2 separate regions of the Homo sapiens genome follow, and region 1 is linked to region 2. The links come from fine-mapping of genetic effects on gene expression. A gene starts in region 2. The other region holds a variant in brackets. All regions are shown on one strand. Distances are from middle to middle.

The links. PIP is the estimated chance that this variant, and not a neighbour inherited with it, causes the effect. A credible set is the group of variants that fine-mapping cannot tell apart.
Region 1: its variant is the best candidate, but not a certain one, in a credible set for the expression of GPR143 in spinal cord (GTEx, PIP 0.69).

What each region holds. Positions count from the first base shown.
Region 1 is chrX:9,786,812-9,792,185 of GRCh38, reverse strand. The region is part of intron 1 of SHROOM2 (shroom family member 2); the gene reads right to left. Among named protein-coding and RNA genes, the nearest start is that of SHROOM2, 3.1 kb to the right of the region's middle. The variant GA/A (reference allele first, on the strand shown) is at 2,213.
Region 2 is chrX:9,763,415-9,768,788 of GRCh38, reverse strand. GPR143 (G protein-coupled receptor 143) reads left to right here and starts at 2,942. Exons shown (of 9, transcript NM_000273.3): 1 at 2,942-3,221. The coding sequence starts at 2,972. RefSeq lists an enhancer at 3,535-4,036.

The sequences.
Region 1 (5,374 bases), 23 kb before region 2:
CCTCCCTGTATCAGATACTGGTGATTATTCTATTCTATTCTATTCTATTCTATTCTATTCTATTCTATTCTATTCTATTCTATTCTATTCTATTCTATTCTATTCTATTCTATTCTATTCTATTCTATTCTATTCTATTCTATTCTATTCTATTCTATTCTATTCTATTCTATTCTATTCTATTCTATTCTATTCTATTCTATTCTATTCTATTCTCGAGATGGAGTTTTGCTCCTGTTGCCCAGGGCAATGGCACGATCTCCAGCTCACCACAACCTCTGCCTCCCGGGAGCCTCCCGAGTAGCTGGAATTACAGGCATGCACCACCACACCCGGCTAATTTTTTTGTATTTTTAGTAGAGACAGGGTTTCTCCATGTTGGTCAGGCTGGTCCTGAACTCCCGACCTCAGGTGATTCACTCGCCTCGGCCTCCCAAAGTGCTGGGATTACAGGCGTGAGCCACCGTGCCTGGCACTGGTGATATTTTTTTAAAGGCCTAAAAGAGCAACAGGCAACCCAGAACTCTTTCAAAATCCTTCATGTGGGTTAAAGTTTTCGGCTTGCATGTGTAGGAAGAGGGCTTGCAGAAACCTGCAGAATTTATCCTTCATGAATTGCCCCACTGCTGACTACAGTGCTTGAAAGTAAAAGAAGACCTGAATAAAAAGTCCATTCAGCTTTTACATTCTAACATTATCGTGTAGAATGTTTCCGCTGCACCCGGTGTGCAAGAAGAAAAGTTCCACAGAGCCCCAGCTTTTCTCCACTGCCCTTAAGAACTTGGCCACAAATCCAGGTTTATTTGCATGCTGATACAAAACAACTCTGGCAAGGGGACAAACAACTCCAAAATGCTTTCCAAAGAGAAAAACCAGCCCTTCCCAAGTGGCAAGCCAGTTTTTTTGACCATGAATTACAAAGGTAGATTAAGAAACCCCCAGCTCATTAGGACAAGGTGAAAACTGCTACTTGTTCTGAGCCTTTCATTATCATACTATTCTACCTTTAGCTCTTGGGCAAACTAGTTTTCTTTTCTTTTTTTTTTTCAAAAGATAAATGTTACGACATGTTAAGAAATACTCATAACTGAGCCATGAAGACCGAACGCATCCTGGTACAGAAGTGAGATGCATAGCTTATGTTTACAGCTTCTCATAATCGCAGAAGGCTCTGGATTCATAGGCGTGAGTCAAGCTGAGTTAATGTCTAAGAGAGGAAGAATCCTCCCAGAGCTGACCCTCAAAGCCTCCAGCTCCCAGACCCTGGAATAGGACTTGAGGCTCACTGCCTGACTCCACACTCTTGCCCAAAACATCGCCGGAGAACAAGGATGAGAATTCAGCAGGGTCACATTAATTCACAGGCTGGGAAAAGGTAATAAAGATAGACTTGAAAGCCAGTTGGCAAGGCGGGCCTACCAACTGAAAGGGTCTTTCAGCACAGGAAAGAAAGCTCACCTCTTGGTTTTTAACCTTACTATTAATTCTTAAATACAGATGGATCTTTATAATGACACTTATCCTAATAGCTGAAGAAAACATGGTAGCTGGCATCAAAAAGTGAGTAAAGCTTTACAACTCGGACATCACTTAGAGATGGCAGAGGCAAGGGAGATCCAAGCCCTCACCCACTGGTTCTCAGACACCTGGAGAAGCAGCAGCACTCCCTCGTGCAGATGTTGACCGCACACTGCATCTGGGCACAAAAATCCACCAGCAGCCACAAAGTTGAGAGTCACCCGCTCCTGACCCACTGCTGAATTCATCAGGTCCCTCTTTTTCAAAACCTTTACTGATATTTCACAAAGAGCTTGGTTGGCTCTTGGGAGCCAATATAATGGCATATGAGACAAGAACTGATCCCGACCAGGGTGGTCACTCTGATCTCCCCGGTCCTCGGGTCACGAGGTGACTTGGCATGGCCCATAATGCAGAGCCCCCTTTCCAAACCAATAAGTAAGGTACATCAGAGGCGCGGGGCCTCCACTCCTGCCCATCACCAACCACCAGTCTCAGCCCTGTGCCCTCTGCAATCAAGGACTCAGCTAACACTTTACATAAGACACTTGCCACCTGGCTGCACGCCCCCCAAAATATGCCCTGATTCCGTCTTTGGCATTCACACTGGAAAGGACATTTCAAAGCTCTGTCTCCAATCCAGAGAAATGTTCTCAGAGTCTGAAGCCCTGGGGTGGGTGAGTCAGGTGGGGGG[GA/A]CCTCCAAGCGTCCCAGACCACAGCAGTCTTGTCGCACACAACAGCTCTGGTGCCCAATGGCAACCCGAAAATCAATGGGTTCCCAAAGGAGCTGCCCTTGGGGCTAGGCCAGGCCCAAGTTACTGTCTTCTTTGGAGCTTCGGGCTAAGGCTTCTGGCATTCTTTTTGGGGGAGGGAGCGGACTCTAAGAAATAGTGAACAGGAGAGGCTGGGGCTTCATTCCTTCCCTCCCTTAACAAACATTCCTGAGGCCACAGGGGGCTGCTGACACCCAGCTGGTGTATTTAACGCTTCCTCATGAATCCCCCAAACAGCTTTGTGGAATTCAAGCCACTCTAGTGACATTTTAGAAATCAGTCCCCTCCCCTCCCCCCACTGAAGACTTCCACTGGTTGAATGGATGGGAACAGAAACATGCAAAAAACCCACCAGGATCACATATATCCACCATCTCTACTTCCGTTACATAGATTCCTACAGCATGGATGTTATTCCTGCCCCCTCTCTAACAACAGCATGGAAATATGGGTTTGAGTGCATTTTTTCCACCAACTGTAGCAAAATTTCAAGGCAGAAATCAGCAGAAACGTACTGAGGAGTGATGAATCCTGTCGCCATCTGTCAGCGGAGGTTCTGCTGGGCTTCATGCATGCACCCCAAATTCCAAGAATGCTACTCCTCTGAAGTTGGTATCCCTTTAGCTTCAAACTAGACCCAGAGAGTAGTCAGTCCTGATTCTGAACAGCCACTGTGGATGCCCATAAAACACAGCACTTGGGAGTTCCTGCTTCAATTTCCTTTCTCCAGCTACAAAAAATGCAGATGAAGCAAGTATTTGTTTGAGTTTGACTATGTAAATAAAGCCTATTCTCAGGGCCAACGCGTGGGAGGAAAACAGCTCTCCATGCAAACACTGGCAATGCCAGAGGCCTCTAAACACACCACCCTAAAGGCCAGTCTATTCAAAAAGAAACAGAAGTTTTAAGAGCAAGAATCCTTTAAGAGCAAAGGTGATATATGGTTAATCTAACAAAAGAGATTCAAAACCAGGCTAATTTTGCCCCCAGAGGACATTTGGCAATGTCTGGAGACATTTTTGTCATCACACCTGGAGAGAGGTGACAGTAGCATCAAGCAGGTAGAGGCTGGGGAGGCTGCTGAGCATCCTCCAAAGCACAGGGCAGCCCCACAGCAAAGAGATTCAGCTCACAAAGTCCCCAATGCCAAGGCTGGCAAACCCTCACCTAACCGATGTGACGAAGGTATTCAATATGGCATTGCAGGAGATCCCAGACCCAAGCAGATGGCACTGACTGAAGGGGAGCAGCAGGCTTGAACACTGGGGCCAGAGTCTGATTCTTAGGGCCTTTCCCAGGACTCAACAGTTTGTGACCTCAGGATACACCATTTGCCCTGCCTGGGCCACAGCTGTTTCATCTATAAAATGGGCTGATAAAATTCCATCTGAAGACCAGGACCGAACCAGCCTTGTTCTTGACACCCCTCCCAGTTCTACTACACGCACTCCCATGAGGCTTTCAAATGATACCCTCATTATCATAAAGAGAAGGTGCGCTCTTACCTTAATGCAAGCTATCCCCAAATCAGAGTCTGCTAAATAGCAAGTGAGTTGTACAGTATTCCAGGGCTCTAATATGTAACTATTTAATTACAAGTGGAAAAAAAAAAACGATTAGAAGAGCTATTTTTTAATGAGCCCCAGTGACTTTTCAGTAGCTTTTGGGAGAGGAAGATTCAAAGCTTGGATTAATCCACATTCTGAGCCAAGCGCAGTGGCTCATGCCTGTAATGCCAGGACTTTGGGAGGCAGAGGAGTTCGAGACCAGCCTGGGCAAAATGGTGAAACTCCCCGTTTCTACAAAAAATTTTAAAAAATTAACCAGGCATGGTGGCGCACATCTGTGGTCCCAGCTACTCAGGAGGCTGACAGAACAAGACCCTGTCTCAAAAAAAAAAAAGAAGAAAGAAAGAAAGAAAAGAAAAGAAATAAAAGAAAAAAAAAAGAGGAGTGTTCTGGCTGGGCAGAGTATACACACTTTATGACTGTCCACCATGTTTCCAAAGAAGCCAGTGTGATAAAAGATTACACATTGGTCAAATTTATAACAATGGCAACCTCTTTCCTGAGTTCAACAAAAATTTAGTGCAAAGCTAAACAAGGCTTCTCCAAATCCCTCCACAAAGTTTTGTAATCATAAAAGCGACAGAAAATATAGAATGGAAGACGCTGGTGTCTCATTTGCTATTTGAACAACAAAGCCATCCCACTTCCCAAACTGATTACCAGTGCGGCGGGTTAGGAATCACTTAATTTCTTCCTGCTGTGGAGAGGCAGGAAAGCCGAGAAAACCAGTAAATTATCTTCAAACGCTTCTAGTCGCCAAGAATCTTTACATTTTAAAAGGAACTTCGTCCACACGAAAGGTCCGACTCAACCCTTCCCAGAGAAAATGACCACTACACACTTTTAACTAGAACACAGGGTGACTGGACTGTTGTTTATGTGTTTGCTTTTACAAGTTCATACAGGTTCAACTGGTAAGTTTCCAGATGGATTTTGTTTTGAGACAATAAAATTCAATGTTCTAAAGCAAACCACACACACACACACAACATTCCTGATGAGATACATCTGGAATTTCTTTATTATTATTAGAACTCGGGTCCTGCTCTTAGGAAGCAGGCTTTCAGGTTTCTCTAAGTTTGCGCAGGTATCCAGTGCGCAGTGGATCTGGGACTGGAAGCCGAAAGTCAGTAAACATTGATGGGCTGAAGGGAATCGAGAAGTTGCGCTGGCGACAGCTGCTACTCTGGATTTCGTAGTGATCACAGGCACGGGTCCAAGGGGTGCCGAACCAGGGACCCCAGAGAGGCAAACATAGGTGGGGACGGCTCGGGGACACGTTCCTTCGCTGGCCTCCAGGCAGCCCCGCAGGTGCAGGCCGCCACTGGCGGGCCCGGGAGCGCCAGAGGACCCGGCCAGGCCCCTGCCCGGAGGAGGGAGGGGGAGGGGAAAGGGACTCCGGGCAGGAGCCATTTAAACTCTGCGAGGCGCGGGGAACCGCCAGGATCACACGCCCACGCCGGTCCCGGCGCCCAGGCCCGGCAGGTGACCCCAGCAGACGCGCGCGCCAGACCC
Region 2 (5,374 bases):
TGAGAATCACTTGAACCCAGGAGGCAGAGATTGCAGTGAGCTGAGATCACGCCACTGCACTCCAGCCTGGGCAATGGAGCAAGACTCTGTCTCAAAGGAAAAAAAAAAAAAAAGTTTGTCATCTCAGTTCACCCAAGCTGGAGTTTGGTGGTGCAATCACAGCTCACTGCAACCTCAAACTCCTGGGCTCAAGTGATCCTCCCACCTCATCCTCCCCAGTAGCTGCAACTACAGGTGCGCAGCAGCACGCTCTGCTAATTTGAGATGTGTCGTCTTCCTCTAGGGACAGCAGGACTGGCCTTCCCTTGGGACCCCACAGAAGGCAGGCAGGAGGCTCCACTGCCAGACAGGAAGCAGAGCCTTATTTAACAACAATGAGCTGCAAACTCCACCACTTCAAAAGATGCTGCTCCTAGAGGAAGACGCTAGAGATGGGCTCTCACTATGTTGCCCAGGATGGTCTCAAACTCTTGGGCTCAAGTAATCCTCCTGCCTCAGCCTCCTTAAGTGCTGAGATTACAGGTGTGAGCCACTGGGCCCAGCCTCTCATACCAATTTCTAGTTCCCTCTCACTTTGATGACAGGGTTTTAAATTTAGTCTTACACTCATGCTTCTGCACCTTTACTCTGAGGCTCATCTTTACCATTGTCATCTGTGCCATGGCCCTAGGAATCTGCATTCATATCCATTTTCTCACTGATGAGATTCTGACTACTGAGCTTGAGTAGTGGGCACCAGAGTCAGCCAGAGCCCCCTGGAGAGTACTCCCAGGTTATCACGTAGGAAGCAGAGAGGCGGAGTGTGTTTTCTGGGGCATGAAACAGTGACTCAAATGCAGGGACCCCTTTGCCTGGCCCACTGGCCCTCAACCTTCAGGCAAATGTACAGACACTCTTCATTTTTATCTTTTAAAGCACTTTCCATTACACTAACCTCCAGAAGCAACTCTGCTTACCAAGGCAGAAGGAAAGAGAGCCACTGTCCAAATTAGATATTAGAATTCAAGCTTTTAAACATTAATGCTTGGGGAGTAGTTCTATGGTGCTTCTGACTGTTTTTACAATGGAGTGTGTAATCCAGCAGAGCTGTTAAGCTTTCTGAAGATGTCAGTCTGTTCTGACTTCTAGGAAGGCAGCTGTGGAGTGAACAGGCTGCGTTTATAGACGTGCCAGATCTGGACTCTTTTGAAGTGGTGGAGTTTGCACCTCATTGTTGTTAAATAAGGCTCCGCTTCCTGTCTGGCAGTGGAGCCTCCCGCCTGCCTTCTGTGGGGTCCCAAGGGAAGGCCAGTCCTGCTATCCCTAGAGGAAGACGGCACAGATCATGCCTTCCTTAAAACCGCAAAGCTGGTGGGGAGAACAAGTGAGGAAAGTCCATGAACACAATGGGGACACCTGCACCTTGGTTGCTTGAAAAAAACCCAGAGAGGGGCCCATTTTACCAGGAGAGAGGAGGAAGGGTGTCTCTTGTGTGGTCACAAAGAGCCAATGAGGTTTGTTGAAGATGATAAATATGATGGAGCTGGATTTTTTTTTCTTTTCTTTTTTTAAAATAAAGGCCATAATCTAGAAGGAGCACTTCTATTTTCAGCCTTGAAGAACTTAAAAAAAAAAATCTTAGTATGCTTACTGTAATCATTAACACAATATTACTTGGAAACTTACATGTATAGAATAAAGCAAGATTTTCAATGTATGAGAAAACATAGAAAAATTAACGCAGTTAAGAAAAATCCAAATAAATAGAACTGAAAGTTAAGGTGCAAAATGTGTCTGTGTGTACTTATGCTGAGTACTTTTCCCTTTATTTTTTTAATGTTTTTAAATTTTAAACTTAATTCTGTGTGTGTGTGTGTGTGTGTGTGTGTGTGTGTGTGTGTGTGTGAGAGAGAGAGATAGGGTCTCACTCCATTGCTCAGGCTGGAGTGCAGTGGTGTAATCTCTGCTCACTGCAACCTCCACTTGCCGGGCTCAAGTGATCCTCCCACCTCAGCCTCCCCAGAAGCTAGGGCTACAAGCACGCCCCACCACATCCAGCTAATTTTTGTTTTGTTTCGTTTTTTGATACAAGGTCTGGCTCTATCGCTCAGGCTGGAGTGCAGTGGCACTATCTTGGCTCACTGCAAACTCCACCTCCTGGGCTCAAGCGATCCTCCCACCTCAGCCTGCCGAGTAGCTTGGATCACAGGCCTGGGCCACCACACCGGGCTAATGTTTGTATTTTTAATAGAGGTGGGGTTTCGCCATGTTGCCCACGCTGGTCTCCAACTCTTGAGCTCAAGCGATCTGCCTGCCTCGGCCTCCCAAGGTGCTGGGATTACAGGTGTGAGCTACTGCTCTTTCTTTAACATTGATCTGTTTGTTTCATTCATTAATTGTAAACGAAAATCCTGCCTCTGTGGGATTATATCCATGAATGAGAGAGGCCATAAAAAAAAGCACTAATTGGACAACCATCTCTACTTAGGAAAAAAGCAGTTACAGGGATCAGTCACAGTTTATGAACATGTTCTGGCGCCTTAAAGGCATCAAAATCAGGATGTCAGAGTCCCAAATAGGAAAGATCTAGTCCACGAGGCCTGTTTCTCTAGAAGACCAGTAAAGATGGCAGGTTTGGCGCTCTAGGTGGCAGAGAAACCACCAGGAAGGCTTGGTGAATGGGGAGAAAGGTAACCTTCCCAACCTTTCTGCTTCTCCTTCCACTTCCCTCCTCCTCCTCCCTCTTCCTCTCCTCTCAGCCCTCCCTCTCTCTGTCCTCCTCCTCCGCCCGCCCAAGCATCACCTCGTGAGGCCTCGTGGCGTTAGCCCAGTGCTCTCGGCCCCCACCGAGCCTGGCTCTACTGCAGGCGCTGGGGGTTGGGGTGGGGGAGAGGCCCAGGGCACATGATGCCGCCCCCAGCCCGCCCAGCACATGACCCAGGCAGGCCGGCGGGGTCCTGGCACACCCGAGCCGCGTCCGCGAACACAGCCCATGGCCTCCCCGCGCCTAGGGACCTTCTGCTGCCCCACGCGGGACGCAGCCACGCAGCTCGTGCTGAGCTTCCAGCCGCGGGCCTTCCACGCGCTCTGCCTGGGCAGCGGCGGGCTCCGCTTGGCGCTGGGCCTTCTGCAGCTGCTGCCCGGCCGCCGGCCCGCGGGCCCCGGGTCCCCCGCGACGTCCCCGCCGGCCTCGGTCCGCATCCTGCGCGCTGCCGCTGCCTGCGACCTTCTCGGCTGCCTGGGTAAGGGCGCGCGCGGCCCGCGGGTTGGAATCTGATCAGCGCCTGGGTGAGGGCGCGTGGCCCGCAGGTTGAGACCCGACTGGTGCCCGGATAAGGGCGCACGGCCTGTGGATTTGGACCTGTTCCGTGATGGAGTGAGGACGAGAGGCCCGCGGGTTGGAACCTGCCCGGTGCAGGGCTGAGGGCGCGTAGCTGGCTGGTTGGGACCTGCTCGGTCCCCGGCTGAGGGCTTGAGGCCCGCGGGTTGGGACCTGCTCAGTGCTGGGGTGAGGGCGTGAGGCCCTGGGGTTGGGACCTGCTCAATCCCCGGGTGAGAGTGCGTGGCCCGCAGGTTGAGACCGGATCGATGCCCGGGTGAGGGCGCATGGCCCGCAGGTTGGAACTCGATCCACTCGGGTTGGAACTTGATCGGTGCCCGGGTGATGGCGCACGGCTAGCGGGTTGGGCTGGCCGTCTTAACACTTGAACCACAGAGAAAAGAGAAAGCGGAGGCTGTTCCCTAGGGACCGGATGGGACAACTAGGTAATTTTTTTTTTTTTTTTTGAGACGGAGTCTTGCTCTGTCGCCCAGACTGAAGTGCAGTGGCGCAATCTCGGCTCACTGCAACCTCCACCTCCCGGGTTCAAGGGATTCTCTTGCCTCAGCCTCCCGAGTAGCTGGGGGAGGCGCGCGCCACCATGCCCGACTAATTTTTGTATTTTTAGTAGAGACGGAGTTTCACCATGTTGGCCAGGCTGCTCTCGAACTCCTGACCTCAGGTAATCCACCCGCCTCGGCCTCCCAAAGTGCTGGGATTACAGGCGTAAGCCACCGCGCCCGGCCGACTAGGTAGTTTTGCAAACACATGGTCGGTAAAATTCCCATCCAAGGGACGTTGGGTTTTAAAAAATCCGTTTATTGTGTTTGTTATATGGAAACTTCAGATGGCGCAGTTAAGCAAAACCCAGACCAGAAAAGATTTCCTCATTTTTGCCCAACTGCACCAGGGAGAGACTAACAATTAACTTCTCTCTGTCTCGCTCTGTGTGTGTGTGTGTGTGTGTGTGTGTGTGTGTGTGTGTGCGCGTGTGTAAATTCTTTTCTATTGTGCACTATATATTCTCTCGAGTATTTTGTAAGCTGAAATCCCTTCCCTATCCAGGCTTTTTGGGTATGGTTTTTACACCACAGGTGCGCAAACTGCAGCCCTCAGACCAAATCCTGCCCGTTTTCTAGGGTCCACGAGCTAAGAATGGTTTTACATCCTACTTTTTAAAAAATTAATGATTTTGTTTTTTGAGACAGGGTCTCACCCTCTTGCCCAGGTTGAGTGCAGTGTCACAATCACAGCTCACTGCAGCCTCGACCTCCTGGGTTCAAGCGATCCTCCCACCTCAGCTACCCGAGTAGCTGGGACTACAGCCACACGCCACCATGCTAGGGTAAATATATGTGGGGTCTCACTATGTTGCCCAGGCTGGTCTCCAACTCCTGGGCTTAATTAAAAGATCACCACCCTTGGCATCGTAAAGTGTTAGGATTACAGGCGTGAGCCACCTCACCCAGCCCTAAAATGTTTTTAAAAATCAAAATTAAAAAATATTTCCTGGCATGTGACTATTACTGAAATTTAAATGTTAATGTCTACAAATAAAGTTTGATGGGAACGCAGCTATGTTGTTCATGTGCATTTGTGAATTATTCATGGCTGCCTTTACCCTACAAGGGCAGGGTGAATATTGGACTGAGAAAGTATGGCTCCCAAAGCCAAAAATATTAAGAATGAGTTTGCCAACATCTGCTTTAAACTATTATGTGACACTTTATACAGACCTCTCAGCTAGATTTGGCCATTCTGTTTAGCTTTTTGGAACATTTCCACCATGCGTAAATGCAGTCTATAATAGAAACACTTACAGTGAATCCCTGTACGTGGGATTCGTGAGGTACGGGTACCCGGCTCATCTGCTCCCCTCTTCACCCTCCTCACTGGATTAATGTGAAGCCAATCTCAGGCTCCATCATCCTGCCCATTCAGATCTCAGAGAGAGCCCTAAAACATAATAATTCTAAACATTTGCAACCCCAATATCATTATCACTTTATTTTTGAGACAGGGTCTCACTCTGTTGCCCAGGTTGGAGTGTGCTGGCATGATCATAGCTCACTGCAG